Regions from separate parts of the Homo sapiens genome. Here region 1 is linked to region 2. The links come from fine-mapping of genetic effects on gene expression. A gene starts in region 2. The other region holds a variant in brackets. All regions are shown on one strand. Distances are from middle to middle.

Region 1 (9,011 bases), 340 kb after region 2:
GTGCTGGGTAAAATATATATGCATCAGATCAAATGGACAAAGCATAGATAAGTGCTAGGTAAAATATATGCATATTATATATATATATGCAAATATAAATATTTATATCAAATGGATGCTAGAGAATGTGTTGTAAGGTAGGCAAGGGATTAAGCCACAAAGTAAGCTGTGGTAAAAAAAAAAAAGGATTTCAAAGTCTTCTGTGATGTCAGAACTCCCTACCAGGAATAAAGAGTTTTCTGGAACGGGGGTGACCTTCTGGCTGTGGCACCTGGTGGCTGGTCTGGGATTAAGTAGTTCACAACCATCCTCTGAGGGAGGTAGTGAGCGCATTGTTATGTCCACTTTGCAGGTGATCAGAATGAGGCACAGGAGTTGTGAGTGATGAAACCGGGGTGTTTAGTCCATTTCAGAGCTGGAATTAGTATACAAATCGTGCTTGGCTGACTTCCAGTGCTGTTCCATTCTCATATCCAGGTTCTTACCCTGTGGCTCTGCAATACCTCATGTTGTTGATTTTAGAATGAAACAGACAAAACTTTTATGTCCAAAGATCACTGTAACAGGTTAGAGTAAGTGGCAGCAAGCCCAGTATGCTTCAGCTACTTGAACTGCATGTAAATTGCAGAATTGATAGGGGTTGAGGTTGTCTAATATTTACTTGCAAGGAGTAATAGGGTTTGCTTTAAAGGACTTGGAAGAATCCAAGAATCTGAGTGTTCATAATTCATCAGATGTATAATTCTAAAAGTGGGAGAAGATTTGAGACCATCTTATTTCTTTATTTTACTAGCGAGGAAACCAAAACTCAAAGAGATTAGATGAATGGCCAAAGCAATACAGAGAGTGAATGGGGCAGGCCCATGTCTCTTTACCCTTGGGCCAGTGGAGCCTACAGGCCTCGGCAATTGGTCTTCTAGAAGAAGCATTCAAAGTCGCAACAGATGAGATGGGAACTGGAAGGGTGGGTTGAGCACGACCCTCTGTGTGCAGAGGGGAAGCTGGTTCTATAAACGAACTCCAGAACATTTGCTAGAATAGGGATACAAATATAAAATCATAAAGCGTCCTACCTCTCCTCTGAGATACTGCCTCTAATTTTATAAAATTCCTCTCTCAGTGAGGAAGTAGAAAATGGCAAATAGCCTTCAGTGTGCTTGATTTTTCAACCCAGCATGATAGAGACATCAACAAAATTTATTAGGTTTAAATGGGATTGACTAGATTAAGTTCTCTACCTAAGAAAAATTGGGGGTTCTGTGTCATATGTTAAAATTTGGCTTCAGGAAGAATGAGATCACGTCCTTTACAGGAGCATGGATGGAGCTGAAGGCCATCATCCTTAGCAAACTAATGCAGGAACAGAAAACCAAATATTGCATGTTCTCATTTATAAGTGGGAGCTAAATGGTGAGAACTCACAGGGACACAAAGAAGGGAACAACAGACACTGGGACCTACTTGAGGGTGAGGGATGGGCGGAGGGAGAGGAGCAGAAAAAAATAACTGTTGGGTACTGGGTTTAGTATCTGGGTGAAAAAATAATCTGTGCAACAAACGCCTGTGACACAAGTTTACCTATATAACAAACCTGCACATGCACCCCTGAACCTAACATAACATTTAAAAAATAAATAAAATTTGCTTTCAGAAAGTAAGATTATGGCTCAGGAACACCTGAGAATATGATAGTAAAAGTTCATACTTGTAAAATGTAGGGAATAAAAAGGATTCTGAGGCTAAAGAAAAGCTTTAAAAACTTCTGATCTACTAAACTGGTAAGTTAGAAAATTCCTAGTCTACTCTTAATGGAGAAAATAAATGATTTTTCTCAGATTACAACACAATAACAGAGACTAGAGCAAAGACATGATCCAGAGATATTTCCACCCTTCACTTTAAGAAATCTGTGCAAAGCAAAAGAATGGCAGGTGTCACTGGGCATTGAGTGGAGTAGGATCCTTTCCAAGTGTGCTGTCTTCTATGATGAGGTTTCTTGGAGTGGGGATTCTTGATTCTGCATAGGGTGACCCAAAGCTTGGTGATACCTAGGTAGGTTGAAGAGACACTCAACTGTTCTGGGAAAAGAATAGACCAGGGCCTTCTGCTACTTGAAGGCTTCCCTCTCTGTGCCCTAAAAAATAAATAAATAAATAAATAAATTAATTAATTAATTAAATAAATAAATGGTGTGGAATCCTTGGGGCTTCAGGGAAGCAAGGAACCGAGGACTGAACTTTGTGTTTGAAGTTAGGATAGTTTGTATCTGGATGACTTAAAGATCCGTTGGCAAGAATGGAAACCAAGTCTTCCAAAGAGAAACCTACAAGAAGGAATGTGGTCAATTGCCCGGGTGACTTTGGTGCAACCAAAAGCCTTTGAGTGTTAGCCAGGGAGGGCTGGTTCAGATTCTGCAGATCCAGTTTCTAGCAGTAGAGCCTGGTGTCAGCATCAGTAACTAGTACACTGACCAGACTTTCCAGTTTTTTCTCTCTTCAACCGGCTGCCTAGTGTTCTTGTACAGAATGAACCCTTTGGAATGAATAAGTCCATAGTGTTCTTGGACAAGGCAGTAGGAGGGAACCTGAATAGGTTATACTGGATATTTTTCTAAAAACCAAACTGTGGGAACTGAAAAATTAATTGAGAGGGGAGGCATACAAGAGAAAGAGATGTGATTTTATTTAACTACAAGCTGAAAAACGTGACCCATCCTGGCTACCTATGAATATCATTAGTTCGATTAATCTGTGGATATATTATGAGATTCTCTAATTCAACATTTGGAAGTGCTTATGGACTTGAAACGTGTTGGTCAATGCTGCGCTGAAATGGGCAGCCTGGGAAGAATACTATGGGAGAAATGCGAGGATCTCTGTGACTCTCCAGGGAGCAGCCTCTGGAGGGGAACTCTTCTTGCTCCTTTTCTACAGATATCGGCATATTTTAGAGGAGTCTGTTTTCAAACAAAAATGGCAGAAAGGACCCCTTTGTAACATGAGCATTTCTTTTAGGCAAATAAGCCTCCCTGTGACCTAGGTGTTAAGAGCTGCCTTTATGATGATTTTCCCTGGACTTCACAAATGACACCCCTTTTGAGTGGTTCAGTTTGAGTGTTAACAGAAACCTATGTGTGAGTAACACGTATCCACAAATATGTTGTCTAGTTGGAAGATAAATATATGCAAGGTCATTAAGGTCACAGGGGAAATGTAATAAAAGTCCAATTATTTTGGCAAATATGTTACATCTAAATATGCATTTGCTTTTGATACTCTACAGTTTAGGCCCCATAAAGATGATTTAGGGTGTCGTCTCTTCCTTGGCTAATTTATGAGCCCAGAGAATATGCGTCTACTCTGACCTCACCTGCTAACTTGCTAAGTGGCTTTTCTATTCCCAGAAGTTCATAGCTGTGTGCAGAACAGCCTTTGTGACTTAGAGGTAGATAAACAAGTTGGTTTTCTTCACTCCCATATTAAGCTTCTGCTCAGCACTTTCTAGAGGCGCTGCCTAAAAGTCTAAGATAAATAAAGATGTAACTGATAGGTTTTCTCTGTTCTTTCTAAAATAATCACCTTTTTGGCGACTGTATTTGTTAATAACTTAGAACCACTCAATAGGTTAAGTGAGTGTGTGGGGGTAAATGAAATCTCATTCATGGAAATAAACTTGAAACATTGAAATATTAAATTGATGATGCATGTGGCTAGACAAAAACACTTTGTAAACCAGCTACAGTTTTGAGCTTCTCATGGAATAGATCCATTTCATTTTAACTGTGCTGTTCATGCCAATGGCTGTTAGCTGGGTTTCTGACAGATGTCAGCAATGCAACGAAATCCAAATGCCTGAATGATCCTTCCTCCTGGATGTGATGCAAACTGTATCAAGTTTCTGATGCCCAGACCAGAGCACTTATGAGTCTCCAAACACAGTTCTTCTATGCTCTCCATGACCTGTCCTGTGTCATTTCGTTTAACACATAGATTTATATTCAGAAAATATAGCTATATATGCTGTGACTCCTTAGAAGACCTGATGACCCTTACAACCTAAACAGGCACTAAACACTGCTATGTTGTAGAGTGCAGGATCTGCAGTGACAGGCAAGTCCCAGGTTACCTTTTGTGACATAAATTTTGACCTTTGTCCCATATATTGGCTATGCCTCATGCTAAATTTGGGGCTCTGACGGTCAGCTCCATCCCCTGGTCAGCCTCAGGACCATGTCACAGGATGATGTAGCCAAGACATACGTGAGGACCACCAGTTATCATACTGTTGGCTCTGCACACTCATGCTACACCATTGAAATAAAACACAGAAATTCATCCCCTCTTCCTAGGAGCTGAACTTCTGCAGCTGGCAGAGACTCCCTGCATGTTTTCTGAGAAGAGCTCAGGGACATAAGAATTCATTCTGTGGAGCATAACCAGGCTTTTAGCCTCCATCCCACACACAGCTACACATGCTGTAGTAGGGGAGAGGCCAAGGACGTTGTCTGGAAAGGTGTAAGGCCAACCACAGAGTCCCCGGGCCGCGTCCTGGACCCACGCTAATCATTCCACCCCCAAGTAATTGTGGGATAATGTGTTCCCTTCTTCATAGGCAAAGCAGGTTATGGAAATTATTTTATGAAAAGTACCTGGGAGTGTTGCCAAGCTAATTTTTGGTTCATTATACCATCTATTATTAATACATTATCACATAATGATTGTATGGTCTGATCTTTCCCTCATACATACTATGGTGGTTTTTCCGTTTGTGTGTGTGCAGTGTAACTGGATCTTGGTTCATGCTGAGCTTAAAATTTGATCTTCTGAATATCAGCAGAAAGACTCTTTCTGGTGAATACAGATCTTCTGAGCAATTATCGACTGACTTTGTCATTAGACTGCCCTTTCAGAAGGTACAAAAAAAGAAAAAGAAAATTACTA[C/T]TGTGAAGTGAAGTCTGAGCAACTGGGAAGAAATGCAAGGTGAAATGAAATGGTGAAGGTAAATGAACGGGAAGAACCTGGGGAGATGGTAACCACGTTAATCATAGTAAACTGGGATGAAAAGACAGAGAATAACACAATATAGAGACTTTTTTAATTATTAGAGGAAAAGATAGGTCCAATAGCATGACTAGAGGCTTTGAAAAGTAAAGACAGCTCAAAAGGAACAAAATTCTCAAAGCATTGTAATTGTACAATCCTAGCTCACCTTCATGAGAGGAAAGTTTAAGAAACAGGCAGCAGGAGGGGGCTTGCTGTCTATTTTTAGAAAGATTTTGGCCAAAAAAGGAAGTGTTAGCACAAAAAGAAGAGTCAATTTTTACAGACACATGAGGGGTAGTGTTTTCCAAAAAGACCGAAACGTGGCACAATTGTATTCACCTTTGTAACTCCAGCACCCACTATAAGGGCAAGGCCCCCCAAATGTCTTCCATTGATTTTGTCATTTGGAGAATTTGCTCCCAGGTTCATATGAGAAGGTACGGCTGACATTGTATGGTATGTGGGATTTGCTTCAAAACAATCCAGGGAGGAGAAAGCAGGGGTGAGGGTAATGACGAAATAAGATTGACTGGCCGGCTGCAGTGGCTCACGCCTGTAATCCCAGCACTCTGGGAGGCCAAGGCGGCCGGATCACGAGGTCCGGAGATCGAGACCATCCTGGCTAACACCGTGAAACCCCGTCTCTACTGAAAAATAGAAAAAATTAGCCAGGCGTAGTGGCGGGCGCCTGTAGTCCCAGCTACTCGGGAGGCTGAGGCAGGAGAATGGCGTGAACCCAGGTGGCGGAGCTTGCAGTGAGCCGAGATGGCGCCACTGCACTCCAGCACTCCAGCCTGGGCAACAGAGCGAGACTCCGTCTCAAAAAAAAAAAGACTGACCACAATTTGATATATTTACACCTGGGTGACAAATACTAAGGCATTCATTACTATATTATATCTACTCTTGTATGTTTGAAATTTTCCACAATAAAAATAAAAATCAAACCATATCTCTCAATTTAAAATAAAATGTTGTGGTTTGCTAAAAAAAAAAAAAATTCCACTTGAAATATACAAATACAGATCTTTAAAAAAGAAACTCACAGGAACAGAAACAGTGAAACCCTTAGGAAAAGGCTAATTGAATTGAAACACAGGTCACACATTTGATTTGCAGTGGAGCGAAGGGGCAAATCTGGGACTCTGGAAAGTTACTCTGGTGCTCTATTTTATGGCTGACTTTCAGTCAAAGGGCATGGGTGTCAGAGGGAGCTCAGTGTTTTCTGGGTCGCTAAAGGGGAACCGATCAACCAAAGTTACACAACAGAATATGTTTACTGAAAATAACAAAAACTTTTCCTTCAGCTGGGGCTATTGAACTATACAAGGGGCTGTTCTCAAGGTTTTAGACAGACCAGGTGTGGATGAATACACTAGTAGAAGTTTGATGGCCACGTGATAGGGATGCTGCAAAGAGAATTTCTGTATCACTCGGAGGCTGGACTAAATGACCTTGAAACTCCCTTCCCACTGGATGATGCCCTAATTCTGCAATGAGATGATCCTTCCTGTTTAGGCACATAACTCATAACTCTTGCAGGAGGCATGCCATTTGTCACACATCATGAGTACCTGATTTGAAAGAAAGAAAGAAAAACACGCTTGATTTTCAAATAAAAACTTATATAGTCCTTCACCAGCTAAAACTTAAAGATTCAAATTATTAATGCTAAATAACTAGTTTTAGTAAGTTGGGCTTTAATCCGTGTGTATTGAATTCCTAGAAAGTGTAAGGTGTTTGGATAGTAAAGGAGACCAGCGCCTTTGCAAGTACTGAGTGCTTGGATGGGTTTGGTGCCTCCAGCCTCTCTCCTCCTTTCCTGGGAGCTGCCCATGACATGCTGCTCTTGAGTTGTTCTTCTTGCATGGAGAACAGCTGCAAAGGTTTGGATACCCACCTTGCAGAGCCATTTTTTAACTTAAAGCAACATGTCACCAATCCCAGTGATTTTTCTTTAAGCTTTATTTCTAACTGCAGTACAAAGATTTATTTTTCTCAAAAAAAAAAAAAAAAAAAAAAAAAAGAACTATTGTGTCAGCAAACAAATGGGCTAAGGGTTGAGGTCAGCATTCTGAAATGACACAGTACAACCAGTGCAGCTATTCTGGTGCTTCCAGAGGGAAACTAAGCACAGTTTGGTCTATATCAGGGTAGGTCAGCGGCCTCTTGGCCTCAGACTGAAGGGGCCCACTCTTCAGGACCTTAGTTAGCCTTGCAATAAATGATTGGGAAGGATATGGTGCTAGCCCTCCAAAGATCTGGAAGGGACTCCATTCTGTCCCACGATATTATTACCCTTTCTCTGTTTCTTCTCCAGTTGTCAGTGACATGAATCTTTGCTCCCTTCTTCATGGAATATTTCTGATCTAATAGCCCCTATATTTCAAAAGATGGATATAAACATCAGATGAATATCACAGGAAAGCTGGATTGCTCTGCAGTGAGTGAAACGTGGAAAGGCCTTTCCCCACCAAGCAGTAGGCCAAATTGTAACAGTAAGATGTATTTGAAATAAAATGGTTCATAGATCAGAGGTGATCCTGTCTTTTTTAAAGCGTGAAAGTGTTCCTTCTGCAGAATGAGGCTCAAAAGAGGAACATGAATAATTTGATATTTATTATGTTATGATCTGCTTTAATCCATTATATATATGAAATAGTGTGTGTGTGTGTGTATATATATATATGTATAGATGATACAGAAATATGATTCTTTAAAAGGCTACATATTTAATATGCTTTCACTCTTAGCCCAGAGCAAAGCTGGTTTCTTCCTGCAGATAAATCATCCCCAGCTCTGGAGTTCTATATAGTTGACTTTAAATAGTCACTTGGTCTCAGATTTTGCTGGATTTCCAGTGTGATAGATGAAAGGATGCTGCACTTCTTACTCAACTACATCTCCTCTTTTACATTTCAGGCCATACCTTTCCATTAATTAATGCATACTGTCGTCAGCTCAGTCTTCCATCTTCTTTAATCATTTCAGCACCTGATCCACAATTTTGCTTCCCACACCACCTCTGACAACATCCTTGTACTGGTCAAGTTTATGAGCATTCTGGCACCTTACCATTTAACACATAACACCCTGTGTTGGTAAATATATTTTTATCTCCCTGCACATCGAAGTATAACTTGGCATTTCCCATACAGAAACCATAATGATGCACTGCAAATAACTCAAGCTTCACAAATATTTGCTCTGACCCAATGTGTGGCAGGGCAATTTTAATCCCGGATTCACCATCCTTACCATTCCCACCACCTTTAATCCTCTCTAGAGTCCAGCATCTACCAAGGCTGTGCTAGTAGAAGAGGGCTTTTGAAATGTAATCAGGCTGGGAAGAAAATGCACTTTTATTTTAGGAAAATTCAGGAGAAATTGGCAGGAAGCTAATCTCAGTGCAGCATGTCTGCTTATCCCTTTTTCTCTCCTGCAGAGGCCAGTTCACTATGAGGGCTCTGCTGTCCTTGCCAGCCTTCAAGCAATCAACGGCTCTTGTCCAGCAGTGGCTCAAACTCCTGGCCATTCACCCCAGGGACAGAAGCCAGTGGAGGGAGCAGTCATTGTTATTTACTTTTCATTGGCAGGTGGTGACCAGATGGATATAAACGGGCTGTGGAAAAAGAGAATGCATGGCCAAAAATGGTGGTGCTCTCTGTCCAAAAACTGAGGCCCTATGACCATGAATGAAGCCAGAGGGCAGGTAGGAATAGGTAAGAGAAGTTATTTCCAAATCACCATCCCCCTTTAGACTTTGAATGTTTTGAGTGTTTCATTAAATAGTGTTACAAGTCCTCTAAGATTCCACATAAACGTTTAGCCAGCCAACAGTTAAGTCTGTACCTCCCAAGGCAAGTGATGAATGTTGAGATTATAATTGTGAATGGCATAATCTCAAGGTCTAGGTGAAGTACAACATTGAACGGAAAAGGACTAAAAGAGGAAAAGAAGACATTTCCA
Region 2 (9,011 bases):
CCATGCTTTTGCCCATACTGTTTTCCTTGCCTAGAATAATTTTCCCACTCCTTCCTCCCTGTCATTCTGAATACTTATCTACCAATGTATAGAAATGTTCATCAAATGCAACAAATTTACATGTAACCTGACTTTGTGTAATGTCAGTAGAGCCCCAAATAATTCTCAAATTTCAACTGCTTATTTAGTTCCAGTCCTTTGGTTAGAACTGGAAACTTTTTGAAGGAAGGATCACATTTTCATTTCTTTTGTATTACTCCTCTAGAATACATAGCTACTTGAAATCATAAAATTCTTCCTTGAAGAAATCATTTAATACTGCACCTTCATTTTTATAGTAAGGAAAAAAAAAACTAATTCAAGGACATGTAATTATTTAGTGGAAAGCGAAGAACCAGAATTCAGGCCACAATTTATAATCTAATGTTGTCTGACACTCAAGTGCTTGTTAAATCAACTGTAAGGTAAAAAAATCACTTTGTAAGCCTGTCTCCAGCAACATTACTCTGCATTAAAAGACAATCCATGCCTCATCAAAACAGAGATTGTCTATTTCACTGTATTTTCCACCAGTCAAGAAGACAATGAATGAGGTTCTTCGATAATAATTTGACAATTCATTTTTAAACCTCAAATTTTTACACAAGTTCAGTAAACCTGAAATTCCATTTTTCTGCTCAGTCCTTGAAATATTCATATATATAATGACCTCATTGTGTTTAGAAAAAAAATTTACTTTAAAAATAAGATCAGGGTAACCCATGATTAAAGTATGAAGCAATTTGAAATTTTAGTAGTAAATCAGAAGTCTAGATAAAGACAGTAACATTATTAAAAATACCTTCATTCTTCAATCTCATATTCTCTCCAGAAGCCAAGAAGGTTTAGCATTCAGCATATTTATATCATATGTCATTTGCTATACATTAATGTAGTAAATACATTTAATTTATTTTGCCTCATAATTTGTTATGTATTATTAAAGGATTAAGATTTTTCACTAATCCTTGTCTACAAACATTAGCTATCAGATATATCTTTCTTCTTTGATTTTTTGGTTTTAACCCAGAGTAGATAAATCAATTTAGTAAAGTCTTCTAACATTTAGGAAGATATTCATCAGTCAAATTACATACACATTTGGAATTGTAATAGCCTAATCTTACTTCTGAAAACATCGCCTACTTTTCAATCTGCAAGGAAAATACTTTATCTAGAAGTCTATTTTCTGCTCTAATGATATCTTTTAGGATAACTGTGTTACAGACTACAAGAGTCTAATACAAGAAGAGAATAAAGGATCAAAAGAAACCAATTACAATAGGAAAATATACAAAAGATCCAAGTCAAAATATACACACTTGTAGTAAATCTGCACGTTAACCAAATGTGGAGATTCGGAATTTAGGTGTCCAGTTTCAAAAATAACAAAGAAAGAGACACTAACATATACCTGAAAGCACATATATGGAAAATGAGATAAAATAAAAAGGGCTTAGTCATTTTCTATAAATCAGAACCATAATAAATAAAGCTCATAAGCTCATCTGCTACTTAAACCCAACAGAAGGAATGACTAGGTGGTATTACTGGCAAGCAAGCCAATTTAGCACTCTGGAATGTCCATAGAAATCTCATAAAAAGGCAAAGTAGAAGGTAATTTAGTAAACAGTTTTCCATACTTCATTCTTAGTAAGGAGGTTCTAAAAAAAAACTTTAGAGTATAATTGCAAACTATAATTACAGGTTCACTTTTATTCACATAATATTTAACTATAGAAAGTACACCAAAAGTTATATACAAGTGACAATTTTGGCCACCTGATCCTTGATTTTAATTGGCAATTCACACTAGGCCTAACGCTTTACACCTTTTGTGCCAACTTGCTAATTACACAAATGCATTAGGGTAAAAGTGTTGTCTAAGAATCTGGTTTTATAAAATCAGCCTTGCTGGTGGTACTCACTTATAATTATACTAAATTATAAAAGGGCCAGATTGGATGTTACAAGGAAAAGAGGTTATTTACCAAAAGAATGTCGAGACCACACTGGGAAAACAATAAAACCTAAACTCATTTTACAGAAAAGCAAAATAAGGGAAAAATAGCTGATTTAATTCAACTTTACTTTCCTTCTTCTAGTCCAGTTATGAAATTATCTTGTTGGGAAAAAAAAGAAACTGCTTTCAGTTCCAAAGAATGCATCTAGATCCAACGCTGTACTAGTCTCGTCACTACAGAGTTTTGCTGAACACTCAGGGCCCACACTGACAAAATAACTTCATTCCCGTCTTCACACAACCCTAAACTAGATGGTCTTGATCACTGAGTTCAGGAATAAAAATATCTAACAATTGAAGCCAAAAAACATTCTGGTCATAACTATCTAGATATTTGGGCAAGAGCACTTCAGACACACCGTCTCAGAAATTAACAGATTCAGATCTAGCCTGGTCAGATTTTGTCGTTTATAAAGGTATGACTGCGTAGTATTTACTATGTATAGTAGACTTCACTTAGTAACACAGTTCAATAGTCCATCCTAAAACTTCTATTAGCATTTTGAAGATAGCACATTAAGTGACAAATAAAACTTGAGGCATTATCTATCTATCTATCTATACATATATATATATTTGTATGTATCACATAGTACTTCTTTGAAATAATGACTTTAAAATGTAAGTAAAATGCCTGGCACATGTTTAACTCAAATGCAGGTTCCCTCACTCCTTCTCAGGAACCAGAAAAATCTAAAATATAAAGGGGTAAAGCTCCTCCCCTATCGTATATTTCTTTTCTTTTTTTTGACAATAGTAATGTCTACTGAAATCATCTAGTGATTTTTTTTTTCTATTTATCACCAACACATTACTCATTAATATGCAGGAGGTAGATATCCCACAGATAGATGAATCCAAATCTTAAGTTTAAGAATATATTTAGGTTAAGTATGTTTCAAAGTCACAGTAAAAGAAAACACATTTCAACATAAAAATAGAAAGTGAGTCGTCTGTACTGTTCTCACTAAAAAATTATCTTGAAAAAAATCTTTTGAAGTATTTAAAAAAATGCTTGATAAAACTAATATAGTTCATACACAACCAGGAAAAGTAATTCTATACTACTAGTTTAATGTATAGTAACCTAACAGTTTTTACAAATACATAACAAATGTAGACTATGAGAGAAAAAGTATATCAAGAGAAAAAATTTATCCCCATGCATTTTTCAAGAAAACGCTCTAAAAACTGGTAGAAATATTAACCATTTATAACTATTCATAGAAAATTAATTTGCTACACTTCTGCTAATTGTTTTTCTACACGGACATGCCAAAAACAACCAAATTCAGATTGAAATCCAATCTCTAATTTATTAGAATAGGTCATAAGTTCAATATCTACCATGCATAATATTTTTAAAAGTAATTGTCTTTAAACCTCATCCTTAACATACCTCATTCATCACACCAATAGTATAGAAGCAGATATATTTTTCCTTAGAAACTTCTATCTCCTTACAAATAAAATAGTTATCATAAAAAAACTTTAGACCTCTATTTGGATATATGTTTAGCTACTATAAACTAGGAGCTGAGAAACATCACAGCAGTATATAAGCTGAATTATAATCAAGGGAAAAGCCAACACATGATTTCTCATAGTATATATCTAATCACACCAACAGGAAAATAAAAACTTTCTTTGGAACTAATCAGCAACACAGAAGGACTGGGGAGAACAAAGTAGAAGTTAAAAAATAAAATTAAAGAAAGGATACAGCCTTAAAGCACCAGTCTGAGTTCCCACTGCCAGGATCTTCTGTACAGGATCAAAGGCCAGGGCTGAGGGTTGATAGGGAAATCCATGGCGAACAGTCTAGGGATGGGCAAGTGACATCACAGCAACCAAGGCAGCAAGCGAAATTTTAAAATAGAAAGTCAATAGAGGCGTTAGAATTTAGAACCACTACCACTGATGCAAAACACATACACATGCACTTACTGCTTTTGAAAAAATAAGTGAAACCTACATTAACAAAGTTATTCACATAGAACCTGAAACAAACAAAAATCTAGTCCAGTGATATACTTTAATTTCGCTTTTCCATAATACTGGTATTCCATAGAAGAAAATCTTTTATTAATATTCTATACTACTACATCCGACACCAGATGACTAAAGTTTGCAATGGTCCAAAATTCTGTAAACCCATTAAATGCAATTCATACTTTATTTTGGCAGTATTCATTTCATCATTACTTTATTTGGATGCTAACGCAAGTACTTCTAAGGAAAAGCTGTCATATAATTACTTTAGTCAAGCATTCAGTAGAGCAATAATCAAACCTCTATCCCAACATTTTACACTTGTAACAGAATGAAGATGAGTACAACATACATTTTTGCAATTTACTATTAAGGCCATAATCATTTTAGGGCATTAGACCTATATATATATATATATATATATATATGCACACTTTTAATTAACTCTGACATACAAATACATGGCTATTTATGAGAAAGGCAGGTATTAAAACCGAGGCAAGTTTGTGTTTCTCATTAAGCAGCTGGTGACTTAATTCGCTGCATCATTCTTTCTGAATTACAGAACGCTATGGCAATTATCGTGCCATTAACAGGCAAAAATCTCAGTACTTTTTAACAAACATAATGATAAAAAGAACCCTGTGATTTCATATCGTAAGCCACTTACACCACATTTTAAGGGAAAAGTGATGAGCAAAGGTGTGGTAGAACAGGTTTGGCTTTTTGATAAACAACATTCATTAGACACCGTTTCCAAAGGAAACTTCGAAGTTGGTGAATCATATTAAAACGCTTGAATATAAAAGCTTCCAGGTTATTACTGGCAGTGTCAGAATACGATTAAAGGTCGGATAATAGTTTGAAGCAACCTTGAACTGATTGCTGCATGTGCAAAGGGGAGAGAGAAAAATCAATGAAAAGGAGTAAGGTATCAATCTCCAAAACAACCCACCGAAGAAACGTTTGCCAAGGGAGGAGCGAGCCTTTTATTAGAGTTATTATTATTATTATTGGCGTTCTCTTCCCTTGCATTCCCATGTAAAGCCCGAGTAGCCCCCTTAAAACAACCCCAATTTTTCAATGACGGTGTCGCGGGGCTGCGCGCTCCGTTCACCTTGCAGAGCTGAAAGTGCTCGGACTGGAGCGTTTCCTGGATCTCCGGCTCCCGGTTCCCAGGCGGATGCTGCTGCTGTTGCTGCTGCGACGCCGAGGACGAGCCGGCGGTCAGGCCGTCCAGCACCTTCCTGATGTTGAATTTCCTCATGGTCTCGGAGGGGCTCCCCCGCAGCCCGGGAGGGGAGGCACAGGGGGTCCCCGGGCGGGGGAGACCACCCGGGGCCGAAGGCAGCTTCGACCGCGGAAACGGAGGAGTGGGAGTGTGAGGGTAAGGAGGCAGCTGGGGGGAAGCAAAAGATAATCCGAACAGGAAATACTGCGACGACAAGAGCGGCGGCCGCAAGAAACCTGGGCGGCGACCCCTCTTCCTCCGAGGCCGCCGCTGCTTGGCGCGGCTGCTGTGGTGCCGATTCAGCCGCCGCCGCCGCCGCCTCGCTCCGCGGCCCGGCAGCAGCAGCAGCAGCAGTGGCGGCGGCGCCCGAGCCCGCTCAGCCCAGCCTCACCTGGCCGCGGGCGGACTCTGCGCCGCGCCGCCGCCCCGGCTCGCCCCCGGCGCCGCCACCGTCGCCGCTGCGTCCATGGCCCGCGGCCGCGCCGCTGCTCGCCCGCCCCGGCCCCGCAGTCCCTCGGCGCGTCCTCCGGCTCCTTCTCCTCCTGCCGGGGGTCGCCGGCTCTCTGTCCGCGGCCGCCGCTCGGCCTCGCACACAAGGCGCCTGGTGTGGGTCCCCGCGCCGCCTGCCTCGCCCCGCCTCGCTCCTCCGCCGCTGGACCGGCCCGCCCTCGCCGCTCCCGAGCCCGGCTGCGTTCCTCAGGCGCCGCCGCGGCCGTCGGCTCTCCCCGCCCAGCCGCTCCCCATCGCCTGACAGGGCGCCTCGGCACACGGCACCAACGCCCGCCCGGAGCAGCAGCGGCAGCCGCGGTTACAGCGCGGGCCGCGGCGGTGGCGGCAGCAGGGCCTCCCAGGAGCCGGGCTGCGGTACCTGCGCATGCGCGCCGCAGCCCGGTTCCCCCACCCTGGCCCAGCAGGCCCCCAGCCCCCCAGCCCGAGCGAAGCTGGGGCTTAAATTATCTTCTGCGAAAATCCCAGACGCTGGCTAAATTTCTCCCACCCCAGTCGAGTTGCCAGAGTATGCAGCTGCTTCTCTTGCAGCTGGCATAGTAAAAATGTTGACGACTAACAAGCAGCAGGAAACCTTTCTTTCCAATTCAGTCATTACAGCAGGGGTTGATGCTTTCTCGCCGTTAATGGGGTGCACGCTCCTGGCCGCTGGCTGCAGTATTATTTTTCTTGCTTTATTGACGGGCGTTGTTTTTGTTTGATTGGATTTGAGTTTTGAAAAAGAGCGTCTAGACAACGATATGTCAGTGGCAGGAGGATGATGGACTTAGGTACTAGGAAAAGGAGAGAAACCTAGACGGGAAAAAACGGGTTCTTTCCTACAGCTGTTACTGTTGGTGGAACGTGTCTGGTCTTAGCAGTTAGCTGCTGGGATGGAAGAGGCTGCCAGCGGGGAACGGTTCCAGGGCCGGTGTCAGCCCGGGCCGATGACACTACCCCGCACCCAGCCCCTCGCCGGGGAGGAGCGCGGGTGGCAGGAAACGCCGCGCTGCCACTATTTTTCAGAACCTTCAATCTGCCCTGACGCTGATGAGCCACTCAGTAATGCCCTGGGAGCTTCACTCTAGAACGGGGAAAGGGGGATAGGATGAAGTTTTTGCTCAGATCTTTCCGAGGCCGCACTGCCCATCTCGCGTGAATGCTTGGAGACAAATGCCTGGCTCAAGTTGGAAAAGACAGACAAGAGATTGTGCCGGGGAAACCCCCCGGAGAGTGCGTTCAACAGGACAGGTGGACGGAAGCACAGGTACTTGATTAGGAAGGATGTGGAAATAGGAAAGACGTAAGGAAGGAAGGAAGTGCAGGAAGACTAATCCTAATTCGGGGAGAGGGGGACAGGTTCCTAGCGAATGACTCCTCGCGCGCTCTGGTCTGCGGAAAAGCCACGGAACCGCCACAAAGGGTTTTTTTAAGTTCCAAACCTGTCAGAAGCACCCGCCCTCTTCTTTGTGAGGTCGGCTCCCTCTCCTTTAGGGAAATTCTCGTCACCCTATTGGTTGAGTTAACCAGCATTCAAAAGCAGTCAGCGAACCAACTACGACTGGGCCCAGGGATTTCGGGAAATGTAGTCCACTCTGCAGCTTCCGCATCCCAGGACGATGTCTTGCATTTGGAACCTACAAAATTTTGATTTGTCGTTTAATATTTATTGAATTAGTTGATTCGCTGGGTGCAACGACCAAGAAAACAAATGTGAGGACATTCCTAAACTATTTCCAAGTGGCTCTGAATTTTTTATTAATTTAGTTCTCTAACATTTTGTTGTCAGGCGGTGTGCTAGGTACTAAAGACACGAAAATGCAATCCTTGCTTTCAGCAAGCTCACTACGGTCTAACGGAGACGACTTTTAACATAAATAGTAATTGTAAAACGATGTGATGAGTCCAATGATGGAATAATGAAGGAGGACGGCAGAGGGCCACTTAACTGGCCAGGAAGGCTTGGACATGGTGACGCCCACCATAGATCATGCCGGATAAGGAGGAGCAGACCTAGCGAACAGGAGGCAAAGACCATTGGAAGACAATGGGGAAGAGAGCCTCAGAATTACCTTGAGAGCTTTTTAAAAGTACATGTGATTCCACAGGGGGAAATTGCAAAACAGACAGATCACAACCCCATAGAATTGTATGATCTGCCTTTTTACTTACCTAGGTCTAAAATAAATCTATTGGATAATTTTTCATCATTGGATTATAAAACTTTCTAGAAAAAAAAGACAACTTCTTGTTGAGAGGCTTTGTGGTGTAGTGGGAAAATATAGGCTTTGTTGTCAGCCAGCCATGAACTTCAGTCCAGGCCATGGTAATATGTGTAATCTTGGGCAAATTTTAAATTTTTCTAGGGATCAGATTCCTCAGGTTTAAAATGAGATTAATACCACCTTCTTAGAAATTTATGAGCATGAACTGGAGGGGGAAAAGAAAGAATATGAAAAGTTTGTACTGCATTGCTTAGTACTCTGTAGACACTCAAAAATGTCAGTTTCCTATTCTATCAGGGTCCTTGAGGTAAAGGGGACTTCAAAGAGTCACCAATTTAAGCCAGTTTCCTACTTCTGACTCTAGAATGTTTGTTTTTATTTCTATACTCTATCTTTTCCATCAGGTTATGAACTCATTCTGACATTCTCAAAATTTCAGTTCTTAGTGAATACCTGGAATTTAAGATGGATATAGCCTACCTTTGTGAACTTGCAGTCCATCCTCTGTGCTCAGAGACACGGGGACTTATCCGAAAATCCAAATGGCCAAAACCAACAATGGCCCAAAATAACGACCTTTATTATAGCAAAGGTAAAATAATCGATCCTCAAACTCACAGTAATTCTTATAAGTCAGTTAGAATTAATCAATTTGTTTTTTCAAATTAGAACTGAAATTTTGAGAATTTTATTTGGAATTAAACATTTTAAGTTTAGAATTAAATACATTAAACTAAATAATCTATATTATTCATTTTTAAATTGAGCACAAAACAGAGAATTTTACCCATCATAATTTCTCAGAAAAGTTGTGTTTATTTGTTTTATTTGAATGAATGAGTAAGTATGTTGATTTCAAGCAATTCAATAGCTTCTGCCTTTAGGTGACATTCTCCTGAATGAAATTATTTCTTACCTGTTTGAAGAATGGACCATAAGGTGATGATGTAATAGTATACTACTGACAAATTATAAATATATATCTTACATTTAGCTGAGTCAAGGTGGCACTAAA

Evidence for each region.
Region 1: its variant is fine-mapped to the expression of STXBP5-AS1 in whole blood (TOPMed, PIP above 0.99).

The regions. Positions count from the first base shown.
Region 1 is chr6:146,860,371-146,869,381 of GRCh38, reverse strand. STXBP5-AS1 (STXBP5 antisense RNA 1) reads left to right here. Exons shown (of 11, transcript NR_034115.1): 8 at 8,639-8,764. Among named protein-coding and RNA genes, the nearest start is that of ADGB, 270 kb to the right of the region's middle. The variant C/T (reference allele first, on the strand shown) is at 4,941.
Region 2 is chr6:147,200,843-147,209,853 of GRCh38, reverse strand. It overlaps STXBP5-AS1 (STXBP5 antisense RNA 1), which reads left to right and starts at 5,240. Exons shown (of 11, transcript NR_034115.1): 1 at 5,240-5,441. It overlaps STXBP5 (syntaxin binding protein 5), which reads right to left and starts at 5,437. Exons shown (of 28, transcript NM_001127715.4): 1 at 5,172-5,437; 2 at 3,786-3,883. The coding sequence starts at 5,321. LOC124901422 (a long non-coding RNA gene) reads left to right here and starts at 6,283. Exons shown (of 2, transcript XR_007059803.1): 1 at 6,283-7,038; 2 at 7,561-7,978. RefSeq lists silencers at 5,295-5,484, 5,655-5,734, 5,755-5,804, 5,835-6,254.